Linked DNA regions of Homo sapiens. The protein of the gene in region 2 binds, or shares a complex with, the protein of the main gene of each other region. Each region holds a gene or a part of one and is shown on either strand. Other genes may lie near its edges.

What was found. Proteins that work in one complex are often made in the same cells at the same time.
Region 1: SNRPG (region 2) and DHX16 share a complex: the UniProt entries of both Homo sapiens proteins name them as parts of the minor spliceosome.
Region 3: SNRPG (region 2) and LSM2 share a complex: the UniProt entries of both Homo sapiens proteins name them as parts of the U4/U6-U5 tri-snRNP complex.
Region 4: SNRPG (region 2) and ARMC7 share a complex: the UniProt entries of both Homo sapiens proteins name them as parts of the minor spliceosome.

Annotation. Positions count from the first base shown.
Region 1 is NC_000006.12:30,656,007-30,659,506, forward strand, and holds part of DHX16 (pre-mRNA-splicing factor ATP-dependent RNA helicase DHX16), read right to left. Parts: coding exon 3,466-3,500; intron 1,087-3,465; coding exon 946-1,086; intron 754-945; coding exon 591-753; intron 504-590; coding exon 385-503; intron 260-384; coding exon 192-259; intron 1-191. UniProt on the Homo sapiens protein: Required for pre-mRNA splicing as a component of the spliceosome. Contributes to pre-mRNA splicing after spliceosome formation and prior to the first transesterification reaction.
Region 2 is NC_000002.12:70,287,241-70,290,740, forward strand, and holds part of SNRPG (small nuclear ribonucleoprotein G), read right to left. Parts: intron 2,133-3,500; coding exon 2,110-2,132; intron 953-2,109; coding exon 828-952; intron 132-827; coding exon of another isoform or gene 21-131; exon of another isoform or gene 1-20. UniProt on the Homo sapiens protein: Plays a role in pre-mRNA splicing as a core component of the spliceosomal U1, U2, U4 and U5 small nuclear ribonucleoproteins (snRNPs), the building blocks of the spliceosome.
Region 3 is NC_000006.12:31,800,467-31,803,966, forward strand, and holds part of LSM2 (U6 snRNA-associated Sm-like protein LSm2), read right to left. Parts: intron 1-3,500. UniProt on the Homo sapiens protein: Plays a role in pre-mRNA splicing as component of the U4/U6-U5 tri-snRNP complex that is involved in spliceosome assembly, and as component of the precatalytic spliceosome (spliceosome B complex).
Region 4 is NC_000017.11:75,116,469-75,119,968, reverse strand, and holds part of ARMC7 (armadillo repeat-containing protein 7), read right to left. Parts: intron 1-3,500. UniProt on the Homo sapiens protein: As a component of the minor spliceosome, involved in the splicing of U12-type introns in pre-mRNAs.

The DNA.
Region 1 (3,500 bases), on a different chromosome or scaffold from region 2:
TGGAATCAAGGATAGGATCAAGTGTCTTACCCTTGTGGGCCTCAAAAGGGGGCAATCAGAGTTATCTAATACTTTATTATGTGTTAAGGGATAGTATGATGAACAGAAAAAGACAGACAAAGGGGACCCTGGAGACAGAGGAGGCCTGGCCTGTTTGTGTGCTGGGGGCCCAGGTGGAGGCGAGGGCTTACTTCTCAGAGGCTAAGATCATTTTGGACAGCATGGGGTCCACCGGCAGCTCTGCCATCTTTCGACCAGACTAAGGAGAAGAGAGAGAGAGTTGAGCCCAGTCCTCCCTCAGGTTTCCCGCTACTACTACAGGGGTCCCTGGAGCCATCCTGACCCCTATCATCCTGCCTCCACCCATGCTGTCCCCCGACTCACCGTGGTGAGCTCCCCAAGGTGGTTGAGGGCTCCCAGAGCATACAGCTGCTCCAAAGCCAGCAGCAGTGTCTCATATGGTGGAGGGTCCAGGAAATCAAAGTGCATTAGGTCATGGATCCCTAGAAAGAGGTGTGATGGATGGAACAGAGTCCCTTCAAAGGACAGTGACTCCAGCCCCTCCCTCCTCTCTCAGGTAGCCCAATCACCTAAGCTCTTGAGCAGCAACACGACATTGCCCAAGCTGGTCCTCTGGATCTCAGGCACTGTGGTTTCCTCAAGCTCGTGCTGATAGGCCCAGGCGGTATACAGGCGGAAGCACTTCCCTGCAGCCACCCGACCTGCCCTGCCAGCTCGCTGATTGGCTGAGGCCTGGAAAGAAAGGGGAACAGGCTGGCTGACAATTTGGTCAGGGAAAAGAAAAAGGCAGTATTTATGCAAGAAATCTGGAAGGATGCAAACTGCTCATCCCGGTTCCCTAGGAAGCCCCCACCCTGCTTCTGAGTTGGACCTTCTCTGTGGGCCAACTCCACCTCCCCCACTCCCATGCATCCCCAGGCTGACCTTGCTGCAGGGTGTGACAGTGAGCGATTCCATGCCTGTGCGGGGGTTGTAGCTCTTCTGCTTACAGAACCCTGGATCCAGCACATAAATGATGCCCTCAATGGTGAGTGATGTCTCAGCAATGTTCGTTGCCACAACCACCTGAGTGATAGGATATGGGGTCACCCAGTGACCCCACCTACCTAGTTACCCAGAAAAAGTAATCTTGGAAAGTTAGGAGTAGTGAAGCAGTTGCAGTAAGGGGCAGGAGCTGAGGGAATTAGTAGTATCCAAGGTCAGGAGCAGGGGACAAGGCCAGAAGACAGGGGACAGGGAAGTGGGGGCTGGGAGTCAGCAGGGCCATAGGAGGAAAGGAAATGGAGAAGAGGATTTAGGGTTTTTTTTTTTTTTCAGAGATGGGAAATGGGGGTGTTCAAGTTCCTGCCCGATCCTCCCCATCACCGCTTTCGTCTTCACACAACACTTCCTGTAAGAGCCTCCTAACGTGTATCCCTGCTTCTGCTCCTAGCCTCTGTCACATGGCATCCAGGATGGTCCTTTTAAAATACAAACCTGTCACATCACTCCCCATCCTTCAGTGGCTTCCTATCCTACTCTAGAATTCAATCCAAGCCCCTTAAAAGCCTGGATCACCTACCCCAGCTGCCTTTCTGACCTCATCTGCTAGCACTCCACCACCTCCCTCACTCCTCCCACACACTGCTTTGCTCTGCCCAAGTAAGTGCACTCCTCACTGGATCATTTGCATCAGCTATTCCCTCTGTCTGGCATACTCTTCTCCCAGATATCAGCCTGGCTCCCTCCCTCACCTGGTTTGGGTCTCTATTCCACTTTCCCCTTACTGAAGAGGCCCTCCCTACACCCCAAGGAAAATACCTTCATGCCAGTCCTCACTCCCACCCCACAGAGTCAAGTTCCATCCTACTATGCTGCCTTGTATCTCTTCATAGCACTGGCCACAAATTGACAATATGTATTTATGCATCCACTGCTTCCCCGATAGACCACAAGTGCAAGTTTGTTAGGCTAAGGACTTTGTTTTGTTCATCACTGTATCATCAACCCCTGTGTACCTGACACACAGAAGGAACTCATTAAATATTTGTTGAATGAAAGTTATATCTCTGCTCAAAATCCTTTGACTGCTACTCAGCTGTCTAAAGTCCAAACTTCGCCAAGCACAGTGGCTCATGCCTGTAACCCAGCACTTTGAGAGGCCAAGGCAGGCGGATCACTTGAGTCCAGGAGTTCAAGACCAGCCTGGCCAACATGGCGAAACCCCATCTCTACTAAAAATTAGCTGGGTGTTGGCCAGGCATGGTGGCTCACGCCTATAATCCCAGCACTTTGGGAGGCCAAGGTGGGCAGATCACCTGAGGTCAGGAGTTTGAGACCAACCTGGCCAAAATAGCGAAACCTCATCTCTACTAAAAATACAAAAAATTGGCCAGGCGTGGTGGAGGGCACCTGTAATCCCAGCTACTGGGGGGCTGAGACAGGAGAATCGCTTGAACCTGTGAGGCAGAGGTTGCAGTGAGCAGAGTTGGTGCCACTGCACTCCAGCCTGGGCGACAGAGTGAGACTCCATCTCAAAAAAAAAAAAAAAAAAATTAGCTTGGGGTGGTGGTACACACCTGTAATCCCAGCTACTTGGGAAGCTGAGGCACAAGAATCACTTGAGCCTGGGAGGTGGAGGCTGCAGTGAGCCGAGATCTTGCCACTGCACTCCAGCCTGGGCAACAGAGCGAGACTCTGTCTCAAAAAAGAAAAATAAATAAAGTCCAAACTTTCCTGTCATCAAAGGCCCTCCCTAATCTTAGCCCCAAATTGTTTTTAGCCTTGTCTCCTACTCCTTCACCACATGAACCTCCCACTAAGCCTACTAGCTCACACTCTGACCTCAAACATACCTTGGGCCTTCCTCTGATGACTTCTCAGCCATTTTTCTTTTTTGAGATGGAGTCTCGCATTGTCACCCAGGCTGGAGTGCAGTGGCACAATCTCAGCTCACTGCAACCTCCTCCTCCTGGGTTCAAGCGATTCTCATGACTCAGCCTCCTAAACAGGTGGGATTATAGGCGCACGCCACCATGCCCTGCTGATTTTTGTATTTTCAGTGGAGGCAGGGTTTCACCACGTTAGGCAGCCTGGTTTCGAACTACTGACCTCAAGTGATCCGCCCACCTCAGCCTCCGAAAGTCCTGGGATTACAGGCGTGAGCCACCGCACCTGACCTCAGACATTTCTCTTAAAGGTCCATATCAAATCCCACCTCTTAGCACATCAAGGACTTCCCTTCTCCACTGAATCTACTGTGCATACTTTCCAGATCACATATTTGGCTCTCTCTTGGTTCACACCATATTTCTCCTCTCTTCAGTCCCAGGAACAAGGGACTGGCTGCTCCTCAGCTGTGTGCAGCAGTGCGCAGGACTCACCTTGCATGGGGCAGGCACACAGCTTTTTCACTACTAGTTGTGGGAAGCATAGGGGTGAAGAGTGTGGGTTTCTCCAACTGACCTTTCGTGCCCCAGGTGGTGTGGGCTGGAAGATAC
Region 2 (3,500 bases):
AGGCTAATAATTAGCAACTCTTACCACTCCTTGGAGGTCTTTATGCTTAATAATTTGCTAAAAGTAAGTTGTCCTTTTTGGTTCACCTTTTTCAAGAACTTTGGGCTTACCGCTTTATTAGGTATGTTGTCCTGTGTTAGACAAAGAGGGACTCAAAGTCTGGGTATCAAAACTCTTCTTCAGCAATCACTAAAACTACGGCCCAATGAATGTAGGAATGTTTAATCCTATGAGGGCTCAGTATGTGCTTATTTTTTCCTGCTTTTTCTCTCATGTGAATAACTGTCATTGTGATTATCCCTTGTAACTTTTACCTTGGCTACCTTAAAATTTTGGGTGTGGTAAACCAGAAAATCCAGGTTAACTATGTATACAAGTAAAATCAGAAAGTGTTACCTGTGAACTGGCAGATCTGCATTAGGCATTAGTAGAAATGCAAAACCTTAGTTAAGTTCTGCCCCATACCTACTGAAGTAGAATCTTCATTTTAAGAAGATTCCCTGGGGATTCATATACACATTAAGGTTTCAGAACTACTGCTCTAATGAAGGACCAACTATGAGCCTCTATTGCAGAATAAAGCTCAAAAAGGATTTCCAACAGCTATTTCAAGCGCTAGGACCTTAGGTTCTGTATAGTTGAGATCTTACCTACAGGTAACCAGGATATTACTACAGCTGAGTAACTGCCGTATGCAACTAAAAAGGAGATGGAAAGTCTAATCTTGCCTGTTATTTGCCATTTCTGGGGGTTACTAACCAGGAAAGTTAATACACATTCCAAAAGAAAAATGAAATCTCCAAGAGAACTCTTGTATCTTTACTTACCACCATTCCAATATTGTTCTGTTGTCCACTAGTCGCCATCTCCACACATTCATCTATCACAAGGTTCATAAAGGGATCAAATCCCCGCAATATTCCTTGGACATGTCTGCCACCATTTAATTTCACTATTAAAAAGAGAAAAAGAAGTTTTAGAAAAACATTCCATTAGCTACCAAGCATTCACTAAAAATCAGGTGGGATAAAACACAAGTATTTGAGATGTCTGAAACCCACTATCCTTACTGTATGACAAGAACTGGGTTAAACATTTTTGTATTTACTTCCACATTTTAATTTATAAGAATCCTAAAAAGTAGTATTATCCTTACTTTATAGGACAGAACTAAACTTCAGAGCTTTTTTAAAATTTTTATAAAGATGGGGGCTCCCTATGTTGCCCAGGCTGGTCTCGAACTCCTGGGCTCAAGGGATCCTCCCGCTTTGGCCTCCCAAAGTGCTGGGGGATTATAGGTGTAAACCACCGTGCCCGAGCTTTTAAGTAACTGGGTTCATGGTTATACAGCTACTGTACGACAGAAGTGAGATTCAAGCTGAAGGCTGCTTACCTCTAACGCTCATGGTTTTTTCCCCTACATATATTTCAAGTACTGTGTGGGTCAGATTTTTAGATAAATTGAACAAATGTTATTCCTACATATTCCCAAGAAACAAGATAACTGTTCCTTGTCTAAGTCCTTTGTAGCTTGTTTAAAGAAAAAAGGTTGATAAATCCTGTTAATTTTGCCAAAGTGAGGAAGGGCTTACATAAGATAAAGTCTGAAGTGCTGTTAAATTAATTATCAGAAATTAGGTAAATAAAATTGTCTAGTTAGGATTAAGTAATCTGCTTAACTAACGGATGTGAATTAGAGGTCCTGTGTGCTTTAAATTTTTTTTTTTTGAGACGGAGTCTAGCTCTATAGCCCAGGCTGGAGTGCAGTACCGCCATCTTGGCTCACTGCAAACTCCGCCTCCTGGGTTCATGCCATTCTCCTGACTCAGCCTCCCGAGTAACTGGGACTACAGGCGCCCGCCACTGCACCCGGCTAATTTTTTTTTGTATTTTTAGTAGAGACGGGGTTTCACCGTGTTAGCCAGGATGGTCTTGATCTCCTGATCTCACGATCCGCCTGCCTCGGCCTCCCAAAGTGCTGGGATTACAGCCGTGAGCCATCGCGCCTGGCTGCTTTAAATTTTTATAAAGTTGCTCCAAACATTGCTAAGACACATGTAAAAAGCAATTAAATAATTAAAAAAAACCCCAAAACAACAACAAACTTACATGATAACTTCTTGTCCATAAATCTGAAAAAGGAAAAGGGTAAAGATTATATAACCAATTAAAAAAATTTAAGCATAAACAAGTAAATAGGTATAGTTAAGATAATTTGCTAAAATTTATACAATGGGAATAATGAAATCTAAAATAGTAAAAATAATGTATTGCTGTAAAGAGTGAGGGAGTAGGGCGAGGTAGCTCACGCCTGTAATCCCAGCACTTTAGGGGGCTGAGGCGGGTGGACTGCTTGAGCTCAGGAGTTGAGACCAGCCTGGGCAACATGGTGAAACCCCATCTCTACCAAAAATACAAAAATTAGCTGGGGGTGGTGGCACATGCCTATGGTTCCAGCTACTTGGGAGGCTGAGGTCGGAGAATCACTGGAGCCTGCCACGTTGAGGCTGCAGTGAGCCATGATTGCGCCACTGCACTCCAGCTTGGGCAATAGAGCGAAACTGTCTCAGGGGAAAAAAAGAGTGGGGGCGTAAAGGGTTACCTAAATTAGACATTCTAGGAAGCAAAGTAATTTGGGAAGAGGAAAGGCAATAAAAATGAAACATATTTAGACTATATTAATTTACATTAAGTAGAGTATACTAATGTGAATTACATTCTTATTGTTCAATACTACGTTGTTTCATTGACCTAAATTTCTTTCTTTTTTTTTTTTTTTTTAAGAGATGGGAGTCTCATTATGTTGCCCAGGCTGGTCCTGAATTCCTGGCCTCGAAAAATATACTCCCCCTCAGCCTCCCAAAGTGCCGCTGGGATTACACAGGCATGAGCTACCACATCTGGTCTCATTGACCTAATTTTCAATGACTGGATTTTATAGTCACAAGAGAAAAACAAAGACTTGCCTATGTTTGGTTATTTCCAAAACTAAGTTGTAAAGACAGCAAACAGTAATCAAATCATATCCAATTCAATAGGTATTTTATATTTGAAATAAGTAGTGTTCTTTTATTTAATATTAAAGCATCAAGCATAAATGTTCAGGGTAGTCCTCAACATTTAAGTATATTTTAGAATAATAAATGCACATTTGAAACTTCAAACGATATGAATTAAAAAAAAATTCCATTTTAGTGGAATACGAGATTAAGCCATGCAGTCAAATCAGTTTTTAATTTCTTCCATATAGGCCAGAAAACATAAAATTTCATTCAATTTTAAAAATTTCATTCAAATTTTAAAATATAAAAAAATGAAAAAAAGATGTTTAGTATATGGGCCACGAAGTGGGGCACTTATTCAATTTTAATGTATAGGATTATCATGGGAAAATGTAAATATAAAACAAGGAGCATGACTGAAGGAGGGAGTAGATACATTTACAAGTAAAAATATATTTATGGGCTGGGCGCGGTGGCTCATGCTTGTAATCCCAGCAC
Region 3 (3,500 bases), on a different chromosome or scaffold from region 2:
TCTAGGCCATGTGCGGTGGCTCATGCCTATAATCCCAGAACTTTAGGAGGCCAAGGTGGGCGGATCACTTGAGGCCAGGACTTCAAGACCAGCCTGGCCAACACGGCGAATCCCCATCTCTACTAAAAATACAAAAATTGGCCGGGCGTGGTGGCTCACGCCTATAATCTCAGCACTTTGGGAGGCCGAGGCGGGTGGATCACGAGGTCAGGAGATCGAGACCATCCTGGCTAACACGGTGAAACCCCGTCTCTACTAAAAATACAAAAAATTAGCCGGGCATGGTGGCGGGCACCTGTAGTCCCAGCTACTTGGGAGGCTGAGGTAGAAAAATGGCGTGAACTGGGAGGCAGAGCTTGCAGTGAGCGGAGATCACACCACTACACTCCAGCCTGGGTGACAAAGCAAGACTCCGTCTCAAAAAAAAAAAAATACAAAAATTAGCTGGGCATTGTGGTGTGCACCTGTAATCCCAGCTACTCAGGAGGTGAGGCACGAGAATCACTTGAACCCAGGAGGAAAAAAAAAATTTAAAAATAAAATATAAAAATACAAAAATTAGCTGTGTGTGGTGCATGCCTGTAGTCCCAGGTATACAGGAGGCTGAGGCACGAGAATCATTTGAACACAGGAGGTAGAGGTTGCAGTGAGCCAAGATCATGCCACTGCATTCCAGCCTCGGTGACAGAGTAAGGATCTGTCTCAAAAAAAAAAAAAAAAAAAAAAGACCCACTTAAATATGCTCTAGGAAATTAATTTAAATGAACTAGTACTAGGCAATCATTATTTTTTTTGAGACAGAGGGTGAGTCTCTGCCTAATAACAAAAACAAAAACAAACACCCAGTATCTGAAACCCACTGCCTCAGTAATGTTCTCACCATATTGCTAGCTGCTGAAAAACATTTGACAGCACCCCACCATCTCCAGCAGTGAAATAACATTTGGGAATTGTACAAAGTGGTGTCATTTTATTAAGTCCCTTAAGGAGGGGGAGATACATAGCACAAAAGTGGTCTGACAACAAACATAAGAGAAAGAACTTTTGGCCAGGCGTGGTGGCTCACACCTGTGATCCCAGCACTTTGGGAGGCTGAGGCAGGAGGATCACTTGAGGTCAGGAGTTTGAGGCCAGCCTGGCCAACATGGTGAAACCCCATCCCTACTAAAAATACAAAAAATTAGCTGGGAGTGGTGGCATGCACCGGTAATCCCAGCTATTCGGGAGGCTGAGGTGGAAGAATCACTTGAACCCAGGAGGCAGAGGTTGCAGTGAGCCAAGATCGCGCCACCGCACTCCAGCCAGGGCAACAGAGTGAGACCCTGTCTCAAGGAAAAAAAAGGAGAAAGATCTTCTTTCTCATCCCAACAGAAAAGTCACTTTAAAGCCACACACATATTGGCTCACACCTGTAGTCACTGCACTTTGAGAGGCTGAGGTGGGAGGATCACTTGAGTCCAGGAGTTCAAGACCAGCCTGGGCAACACGGCCGAGACTCTGTCTCTATGAAAAATTTTAAAAATAATATAAAAAGGCCGGGTGCAGTGGCTCACGTCTGTAATCCCAGCACTTTGGGAGGCCGAGGCAGGTGGATCACGAGGTCAGGAGTTCAAGACCAGCCTGACGAAGATGGTGAAACCCGATGTCTACTAAAAATACAAAAATTAGCCAGGTATGGTGGCAGGCACTTGTAATCCCAGCTACTTGGGAGACTGAGGCAGGAGAATCACTTGAACCCAGGCAGCAGAGGTTGCAGTGACCCGAGATCATGCCACTGCACTCCAACCTGGGTGACAGAGTGAGACCCCATCTCAAACAAAAATAAATAAATAAATAGAAAAAAAAGAAGGCTGGGCGCAGTGGCTCACACCTGTAATCACAGTACTTTGGGAGGCCGAGGTGGGCAGATCACAAGGTCAGGAGATTGAGACCATCCTGGCCAACGTGGTGAAACCCCTTCTCTACTAAAAATACAAAAATTAGCTGGGCGTGGTGGTGCATGCATATAATCCCAGCTACTCGGGAGGCTGAGGCAGGATAATCACTTGAACCAGGGAGTCGGAGGTTACAGCACCACTGCACTCCAGCCTGGCGTAGACTCGACCAGAGCGAGACTCGTCTCAATAAAAAAAAGAAAAAAGAAAAAGAAAAGAAATGTTACTACGGCCGGGTGCAGTGGCTCACACTTGTAATCCCAGTACTTTGGGAGGCTGGGGTGGGCAGATCACGAGGTCAGGAGTTGGGAGACCAGCCTGGCCAACATGGTGAAACCCTGTCTCTACTGAAGATACAAAAAATGAGCCAGGCGTTGTGGCGCATGCCTGTAATCCCAGCTACCAGGGAGGCTGAGGCAGGAGAATCACTTGAACCCGGGAGGCAGAGGTTGCGGTGAGCCGAGATCACGCCATTGCACTCCAGCCTGGGCGACAGGGCAAGACTCTGTCTCAAAAACAAAATAAAATAAAAAAAATAAAGGTACTTTAGGGCCTAGGGTTATAACACAACAGTTAGGCTTCCCATGTAAAAGGCCCAGGAAGGAGAAAAGAGGAGAATCAAAAACAAGTCATCACACCAAATTGCCTAAGACTGATAGTGATTACCGTACTTGTCTTGCTCTGTGGCCCCAATCTATACACATCAATATCACTTGCATTGCCAGTGCTACAAATGGAAACCTGTGTTCTAAAACGCAAAGGCCCTTAAGTCCCTCTCCTCACCATTCCCTGCCCTGTCAACGTGTAACCCATGAAAAAATTATCTCACATAGAAATGTGGAAGACAGCCAGACACAGTGGCACACACCTGTAATTCCAGCACTTTGGGAGGCCAAGGTGGCAGGACTGCTTGAGCCCAAGAGTTTCAGACTAGCCTCGGCAACACAGTGAGACTCTGCCTCTCCAAATAATTAAAAAATTAGCTGGGCATGGTGGCATATAGCCCCAGCTATTCAGGAGGCTGAGTGAGCTATGGTGGTGCCACTGCACTACAGCCTGGACAACAGAGTGAGACCCCCATCTCAAAAAAATAAATGTGGAAGACGCTTTTGGGAAGAGAATACAATTGATCCCATCTTTCTAAAGGATAATGAGGTAACAGGTATCAATATTTTAAATGTACTTTTTTTTTTTTTTTGAGATGGAGTCTCAGTCTGTCGCCCAGGCTGGAGTGCAGTGGCCTGATCTCAGCTCACTACAACGTCCGCCTCCCGGGTTCATGTGATTCTCCAGCCTCAGGCTCCTGAGCAGCTAGGATTACAGGCGCACAACACAACATCTGGCTAATTTTTGTATTTTTAGTAGAGATGGAGTTTCACCATGTTGGCCAAGCTAGTCTCAAACTCGTGACCTCAGGCATCCACCCGCCTCGACTTCCCAAAGTGCTGGGATTACAGGTATGAGCCACCGCATCTGGCCTAAATGTACATATTATTTAAAGGACTGTACAGATAAGTACAGGGCCAGGTGTGCTGGCTCATGCGCGTAACCCCAGCACTTTGGGAA
Region 4 (3,500 bases), on a different chromosome or scaffold from region 2:
CATGCCACTGCACTCCAGCCTGGTCAACAGGGCGAGACTCCATCTCAAAAACAAAACAAAACGAGGTGATGCTTCTGACAAGTGCTTAGCTGGCACCTGGCACCTGGTGGCTGGGCAGGCCCTCGGCAAGGGCAGCTCAAAATACAGCTACATCTGGGGACTCGCCCATGCTGAGCTGAAGCAGCCCAGGGTCAAAGTCTTCACAGCAGGCTGGGCGTGGTGGCTCACGCCTGTAATCCTAGCACTTTGAGAGGGCCGAGGCAGGCGGATCACAAGGTCAGGAAATCGAGACCATCCTGGCTAACACGGTGAAACCCTGTCTCTACTAAAAAAAAAAAAAAATACAAAAAAAATTAGCTGGGCGTGGTAGCGGGTGCCTGTAGTCCCAGCTGCTGGGAAGGCTGAGGCAGGAGAATGGCGTGAACCCGGGAGGCGGAGCTTGCAGTGAGTCGAGATCGCGCCACTGCACTCCAGCCTGGGCGACAGAGCGAAACTCCGTCTCAAAAAAAAAAAAAGAAAAAACTGTATCACAGGGTATTTTCAGAAGTCTCACCACCATTCTGGTCCCTTCTACCTTGTTCCCTGCCTCGTACTAACCCATTTCCTTATTACACTTTTGTGTCTTGCCAGCGTGAGTGCATACACAGAGGTGTGTTCATCTCCACCCTGCCTTCTCACACAAAGGGTAGCTTACTCTATGTACTGTCTGTCCTTCAGACTTGAAATTGAAGGAGCCATTTTCAAGACACTGAAGGAAAACCCAAGAACAAATAATCCCCTGTGAATAGTCCAGTGTACCAGTCCAGTGTACCAGTGTACCAGTGTACAGTCCAGTGTACCAGTGTCATAGAGGAACTGCCACTGGGGCTGGGTGCAGTGGCTCATGCCTGTAATCCTAGCACTTTGGGAGGCTGGGGTCGGAGGATCACTTGAGCCCAGGAGTTTGAGGCCAGAACAAGGGACTAGAGTCTGAGCCTGGTGCCAGCTGGGTTCCCAGGGCACAGAATTTGGATCCTGGATGACAGGGGCGAAGTCCTGGCTCCAGTTATCACTAACAGCGGGAGCCCCAGGCAGTGGACTTGCCCTCACTTGGTGGTGGGGGTTCCCGATATGTACAAAGGGGTTAGAACCATCGGCCTTGCCGTTCATGACCGATTCAGAGGCCTTGTGGACAGGCTGGTTCAGGTGGGCGTGTGGCGAGCACATGGTGTGCACTGGGCGGGCATCCAGGAGAGGCAGCTTTTATCCCAACAGCACCCAAACAGGAGCCCTGGACCCTGGGCAGAAAAGGCAGCCAGAAGCACAGAAAGGGTCAATAAACTAGTTCTACAATTGCTCTAAATGGGCAGATCCACAAGAGGCCACAAAAGAGGCCAGAGACTTGAAAACCCGTGCGTGTTCTCCGCGGTCGCTGTAGCCGGATCCTTCCTCATGGCTGTGGCGGTGCCGACGGCGGGCAACTGAGAGGAAGCCACAGGAGAAAGAGACCGCCACACAGAGACGACGGTGAGTGAGGCCAGGCCCCTGTTGGCAAGTGGTTGCTGCCACTGTAGTTCCACTGCCACCGCTGATGGGAACACTTGAGGCCAGACTGAAGCCCTGGCTGACATGGAGAGAGAGCAGGGGCTTCTCTAGGGGCCTGCAGGCCCCCAAGCATGGAAATAAAGGAAAATCTTGAGTCCCTTCATGAAATTCCAGGCACCTAGCTAGCCCTGAGAAGCAAGTGAGCAACTCGATAAGCAAGAAGGTAATAGTTAGCTTAAAACAATAGCCAAGGAAGTCAGAATCAGGGGATGTCTGGTTTCCCCATAGAAACTAAAGATAACTTTGTTTTTTTTTTTTTTTTGAGACAGTCTTGCTTTGTCGCCCATGCTGGAGTGCAGTGGCACGATCTTGGCTCACTGTAACCTCTGCCTGCCTCCTGGGTTCAAGCGATTCTCCTGCCTCAGCTTCCAGAGTAGCTGGGATTACAGGCTCCTGCCACCACACCCAGCTAGATTTTGTATTTTTAGTAGAGACGGGGTTTCACCATGTTGGCCAGGCTGGTCTTGAACTCCTGAGCTCAAGTGATCCACCCGCCTCAGCCTCCCAAAGTGCTGGGATTACAGGTGTGAGCCACCACACCCGGCCTAAAGATAACATCTTAATATCTGTCCTTGAGTTGCTTTTCAGAAATCTGGACCCTCAACAAACAATTCCCCTGGCACTGAGACCTCAGATAAGGGGAACTGAAAACTACACTCTGACCACTCTTTAGACTCCCTGAGGGGCCTGGAGGACATGCCCACAGGTTATAGCTAACATTCTTTTTTGCTGATGCCAAATTTGTAGACAAAGCTTCACCTCCTTAACCACTCACAAATCAGAAAATCTTTGAAGCCACCTATGATCTGTGCCCCATCCCTTGGAGACATCCTGCCTTCTTAGGCCAAACCAATATATAGCCTCCTGGTGTTGATTTAAAACTTTGTCTGTAACCTCTGCCTCCTGCCTTTGAACACCCTTAACCATAAGCCATCTGGGAATTTGGGTCTTAAGCATGAGCTGCCGGATTCTTCTTGCTTGTCGCCCCACAATAAAGGCCTCACTTTTGGCTGGGCACAGTGGCTCACGCCTGTAATCCCAGCACTTTGGGAGGCCGAGGCGGGCGGATCACCTGAGGTGAGGAGTTCGAGATCAGCCTGGCCAACATGTCGAAACCCCGTCTCTACTAAACATACAAAAATTAGCTGGGTGTGGTGGCGGGTGCTTGTAATCCCAGCTACTCAGGAGGCTGAGGCAGGAGAATTGCTTGAACCAGGTAGGCGGAGGTTGCAGTGAGACGAGATTGCACCATTGCACTCCAACCTGGGCAACGGAGTGAGAATCTGTCTCAAAAAAACCAAAACCAAAAACAAAAACAAAGCCTCACTTTCTCACTGCGATTTTTGTCAGTAATTGGCCTTAGTGTGCAGGGTGAGCGAATCCATTTGTTTGGATAGCATCCAGCTTCCAGCCCTCAGAGAGGAGGCAGAAGTGCTGGGCCAAAGAGCAGACCTCACTCAGAGCTGCCACAGCAAAGCCAGCATGGAAGGGTACCTGTGAGTGTGGTGGCTGCAGGGACAGACGGAAGGAAGCCTGCATTCTCATCCTGGCCTGCGACAGCCAGACGAGGGGCAGCTGTCTGCACCGCAGCTTCCTTATTGATAAAATGAGCAATTTGGAGTAAACTCCTTTCTCGCTTTCGCTCCACAATCCTAGGAATTGGAACTCCTCTAAGGGCAGGAAAAGGGCCAAGGGACTAGCTTGTAGACTCTGACTGCTCTGGGTTTAAGTCTCAGGTCTGGTACTCTTTATTTATTTTGAGACGGAGTTTCACTCTTGTTGCCCAGGCTGGAGTGCAATGGCGTGATCTTGGCTCACCTCAACCTCCACCTCCTCGGTTCAAGCGATTCTCCTGCCTCAGCCTCCTGAGTAGCTGGGATTACAGGCGCGTGCCACCGCACCCAGCTAATTGTATT